Regions from separate parts of the Homo sapiens genome. Here region 2 is linked to region 1. The links come from fine-mapping of genetic effects on gene expression. A gene starts in region 1. The other region holds a variant in brackets. All regions are shown on one strand. Distances are between the middles of the regions.

Region 1 (2,947 bases):
GATTACATTTTAAAATCCCTTTTAGATACATGTTATTGTTTCTTCAGTCTCAGCTGCACTTCAACATCACTGCATTTCTTCTCTCTGATTCTTTTCCAAATGCACTTAACCTGGATTTATATATTTCCTCACTCAATTTCAATGTATTATTTTAATTCGATTATATGGAACACTTTATCACTGCCCCAGCAATTACTCCTGAGTTTGCAAACATGAGCCGACTAAGTCATTTGAAGCCACCCGCCCCCCAACCCCTCAATGAAAAAAACAATCTTAGATAAATGTTAAAACAAACAGGCAAACAAACATACGCATGTACAAACATACCTGTCCTTCCCTCCCTTTCTCGCTCTCTCGCTCTCACGCACACTCACCCATACACACACACACACACATATACACTTCTCAAAATAAAGGGCCATCGACTTAACAGACCTACTTTTACTCTCATAAACAATCATCACGTTTATAGCAATTAATTAAATATTTTATATTAATAGTTTTTGTAAGGCACATACATAAAGATAAGTACTAAAGGCATATTTGTGGAAAAAGCTCTATACTGTACATAGTCATTTCTTTTCTGGTGTAATAGAAGGAGTTATTTATTGTCAGTAAACACACTTATTTTTTGCTCTGGTTTTGTGTGAAAGACAGCTTATTCATTTTCTCTTCCAACCAAAACTTTTTGGAATACATCACATTAATAGCCAACTTATTTTAACACCATTTCCAAAACTCTTTTTTTAAACCTAAGTGTTAAGCACATTACATTACAGTGTTATAGTATATATCTACATTCATTCATGACCTATGTTCTTCTTCATTTTTCACAATTTTATAAAAACATATTGCATACATGTTACATTCCAAATAATTCATCCTCATTCTTGTGACAATACTTTATTGCATATAAATGCTGTATTTTGTTCTTGTATTGCTTTTTAAATGACGTATCTTTGAGCATTTTATAAATTATGTGTTTTCGTTATGCCAAAATATAATTGTACAAAAAATATAGGGTTGAGTTCTCAACAGGCTTTTAAGTTTAGCAAGTAGATCCTTAATAGAAGACTCACCCCTTCTTCTTGGAAGGATGGAAAATGGAATTTTATCTGCTTAATTTTCATATATACATATGAAACATATATAATATATAACATATATGAAACATACATAATATATGACATATATCAAACATATATAATATATAACATATATATGAAACATATAATATATAACATATATATGAAACATATATAACATATAACATATATAAGAAACATATATAACATATATATATATAATATGGAACACTTTATCACTGCCCCAGCCATATATATATATATATATATATATATATATATATATATATATATATATATAATGTTATGGACTGAATGCTTGTATCCTCCCCAAAATTTATATGTCAAAATTGAAACCCCCAATGTGATTGGATTAGTAAGTGAAACCTTTGTGAGGTGATAATGGCATGAGGGTGGAGCCCTCATGAATGGGATTAGAGCTCTTATGAAAGAGACCCCAGAGAGATCCCTTGCAAGTTCCACCATGTGAGGATACAGGGAGAAAATGGCAGTCTATGAACCAGGAAGCAAGTCTTCACCAGAACCCAGCTGTGCTAGCACCCTGAACTCAGGCTTTCAGCCTCCAGAACTGTGAGAAATACATTTTTGTTTTTATAAGCAAGCCAGTCTATGTTGTGTTTGTTATAGCGGCCCAAACAGACTAGGGCAATATATTATTGAGAAAGATAATGTTTCCCTTACACGCCAGAAATTAATCATCTGTATTCAGTAAAGCATACATTTTCTAAATCCAAACAACTTACTCAAAATTTTTAGACTTTAACCTCTAATTATATTTTTTACTTTAATATATTACATTTTATATACATTTAAAAATATATGTACCTATTCCATTCATTTTCAGCATCTTTTATCTTTTTGTTTTTTTGAACTTTGTAGCTCCATGTCTGAACTCATTTCTCTTTTGAAATGAGTAAAAATATATTTTTTTTCAAAAGGTCAATTCTGCCATTGTCATTTTGTTGCCTAAGGTATGAAAACTATATAAATGCTCATAAATGCAGTAAAAAAATAAAAACTTTCCTGTGAATCAGTATTGAGGTTAGTGCTCTTATCCTTGATGATGGAAAAGGCACTTGGCCTTGAGATCTTTGCAAGCTGAGGAGCTGGTGATTTTTTGTAGTTGTTACCTGATAATGCATTTTCACTTAAAAACTTGTTTCTCTCATTCTGAAAAGTATAAAAAATCAAGTTTTAACATTTTTTGAAGTTTTTTTCTATTTTCATATCTTTCTTTTATTATACATTGCTATGGCTGTATTTATTTCAGAAAATTCTATAAAATCTAATTCATGTAGAATGTAATATTAAATGTTTTTCAATATTTTAACAGATTTTATAATGAAATTATAGTACAGTACATTAAAGGACAACTAGACAACTTTAGTATTATCTTTACCCATTTTAGAATCCATTGCATGCAAGGAGATTTTATTACTTTGTTTTAAGGTAATAATTTTTAAAATGTATAGCCAAAAAAAATTAAGTATTAATATTGGGAGCTATCCCTTTAGCTACAACATCATGTCTATAGAAAGTGTTACTTCATTAACAAAAAGCTCTAGAAAAAATCAGTGATATGGTTAAAAGCTCCTGAGGTTGTAAAATTTTATACTGATTTTTGCTTTGCTACTTACTGGTTGTTGATCTTTAGAAAAGCTATTTAACCTTTCTGCTTCCATTATTGTTTCATTACCTACAGCAGAATTTTCAACTCATGAACTCTTATTTTCCAGAGTGGTTCATAACTTTTTTCATCATGAAAGTCATATCAGGGTTCTAAGCAGCAGCAATTAAGACAGTTGTTCTCTCAGCTCAAAAGGGCTAACAAATATTGCCTA
Region 2 (2,947 bases), 24 kb before region 1:
ACTACACTGAATTTATTTTTTAATATTTGCTTTATTCAGTAAAAAATTAACCTTAGCTTTCTGTAATTTTTTTACTTTATTATACTTTTTAATTTTTTAAACTTTTTGACTCTTTTGTAATAGTGCAGCTTAGAACACACATTGTACCACTGTATAAAATATTTTCTTTATTTATATCCTTATTCTATATAGGTTTTTATATGTGAATCTTATTTTCTTTTACATTTTATACCTTTTTGTTAAAAACTATGACACAAACACACACCTTAGCCTAGGCTTACACAGGGTCAGGATTATCAAAGTCACTGTCTTGCACCTCCACATCTTATCCCACTGGAAGGCCTTCAGGGGCAATAACATGCATGGAGCAGACATTTTCTATGATAACAATACCTTCTTCTAGAATACATCCTGCAGGACTTGCCTGGGGCTGTTTTACAGTTAACTTCTTTTTATAAGAAGAAGGAGTATGCCTTAATGATAAAAAGAATCACATAGCAGATACATAAGCCAGTAACATGGCCATTTATTATTATATTCAAGTATTATATACTGTACATAATTGTGTGTTACATTTTTATATAACTGGGAGTACAATAGGTTTGTTTATACCAGTATCATTGCAAACACATGAGTAATGTGTTGCACTATGACTTTAGGATGGCTACAATGTCAAGTCAATAGAAAATTTTTAGGTTCATCATGATCTTAGGGGATCCTATTTTATATGCTGTTGGTCATGGACCCAAAGGTCTTTATGCAGCACATGACTGTGATTTAGAAAAAAAGATATATGTCTCCTGAATAATACACATTGCTTAATATTTAAATGCAGTCAATCTCTATTGAAAATTGATTGACTAATTGCAGTAACATGAACTGATGGCTCATTTTTTTTCTGCTTAAAACTCTCACATTCTTGATGCATACTGTTGGCATACTGTATATGAAAATTACTGATTTTGAACAAGCAATGTATGCCAGAAAATGTCATAAAGTTAATTTTATAGAGATAATATATCCAAAAAACTCTAAATTTTTAAGAGAAATCACTTCATCAGTAATATCCATGTACATTTAGATGTACATGGAACATTTAAATGATAGAACATTTAAATGATTGTGTCTGACAATGGGTGTGGCTACTACAACAGTTAGCAAGAACAACTTTATACGTGTTGGATCCAAGTGCTTCTTGAGATCCTCTGCTTTCCACCACCCATTCAAAGAGTGCCTTGCTCCAGTTGACTGACCTCTATATGACAATAGGAGAATAGAATTTTAGGTCATGGGGCAAAAATAAATGTTTAGGTACCAGAGAGTCTAAGCTTTAGTGGTAACCACTTATTATACAACTGCTATGAATTGCTGCCAGATGGCAACCGAAAACCTAAAGGAAGTTAGGACCATGCTCATGTTCAACTACTGTGGTGTGGGAAGCTCCTTGTACTATAAGATGCTGAGTTCAGTTATAAAACATGCACTTGGGGAAGTAAATGCCTTGGGTCCCATCCATCTTACTGAGAATCAATCCCATCCAGCTTAATGAATTGCTGCCACCGGGCAACTGAAAACCTAAGGGAAGATGGGACCAAGCTCATGTCCAACTATTGTGGTGTGGGAAACTCCTTGTACTATAAGAAGTTGAGTTCAGTTATAAAGCATCCACCTGG[G/A]GAAGTAAATGCCCTTGGTCCCATCCACTTTACTGAGAATCAATGCAAAGGGAATGTCTAGGGCCATGCATCTTATAATTCTGTTTGTGCCTTTATTTCTATTTTTTAAATCATGGGTCAGTAAAGTTTCATCTGTGGTCCAAATCTTGCTTGTGGTGTGCTTCGGAAATACAATTTTACTAGAATTTAGGCACAATTATTTGTTTACACATTGATGATGGCTGCTTTCAGGCTTCAACAGCATAGCTGAGTAGTTGTGATAAAGACAATGAGCTCTCGAAGCCCAAAATATTTACTATCTAGCTCTTTCAGTAAAAGTTTGCTGAACCTTCCTGGAACTCCCATTGTCTTTTTTTTTTTTTTTTTTTTTTTTTTATCTCATGAATGAAGTGTTTCCAAAAGAATATCAACTTGGGTTGTGTGTTTTTGTAATTATATATCTATATATTTAGAAAGGTATTGTTTAGCATTCTTATGTTCCAGTTATGTATTTTGAAAATCCTGTAACCTCTCTTTCACTTATGCAATGCTATGTATGACATCATTTCTCTGTCCCTTGAATAACAATTGGAATTTTTAATGAAACAAAAATTGATGTACTCAATATTTTAATGTGCCCACCAATAATGCATATATTTATGTTTGTGCCAGGAAGTGAGAAATACCAAATAAAACTCAAATAAAATAACAGCTTTTGGAAACAATTGGAAATTGCTATTTAACCTCATTTTGATGAAAGCCACTACAATGGAGGGGTCAGGCTCACATTTGATTCAACTCTATTGATCGAATATAGCATTATTAAAAGTGAGAGAATCAATCATTTTGTGCCTCCTGGTATGAAGTAAACAGCAGTAAACATCATCATCTTTAAAAATTTTGCCAAATATATTAAAACTATATTTAATCATGCTTATGGACCTATTTAACAGTTTTCAGGAAATAAAGGGACTAGAAAAAAATAACTATCAGACTTGAAGCTAAAACTGTTGGGAATATCCTGCTCCAGGGTGACTATAACATTCCTGCATCCATATTAGTTACTACAGGTACAATCCCAGAAAAACAGCCCACCTGAATCTAGTTCAAATAGCGGAATCATGAACAAACAAATGAATGTTGTTTTAAGGCACGATTCTGAGGTGGTTTCTCACAGAGCAGCAGAAAATTGATACTTTTGATAAAGTTGGGCGATTGTACATGGACAATATTTTACTAATCTTGCTACCTAAAAATATACTTGATGTTTTTATAATTTTTCAAAACTATGCCTT

The links. PIP is the estimated chance that this variant, and not a neighbour inherited with it, causes the effect. A credible set is the group of variants that fine-mapping cannot tell apart.
Region 2: its variant is the best candidate, but not a certain one, in a credible set for the expression of LINC00448 in testis (GTEx, PIP 0.54).

Annotation. Positions count from the first base shown.
Region 1 is chr13:62,795,289-62,798,235 of GRCh38, reverse strand. LINC00448 (long intergenic non-protein coding RNA 448) reads left to right here and starts at 1,544. Exons shown (of 8, transcript NR_047029.1): 1 at 1,544-1,676.
Region 2 is chr13:62,818,858-62,821,804 of GRCh38, reverse strand. No RefSeq gene overlaps it. Among named protein-coding and RNA genes, the nearest start is that of LINC00448, 24 kb to the right of the region's middle. The variant G/A (reference allele first, on the strand shown) is at 1,674.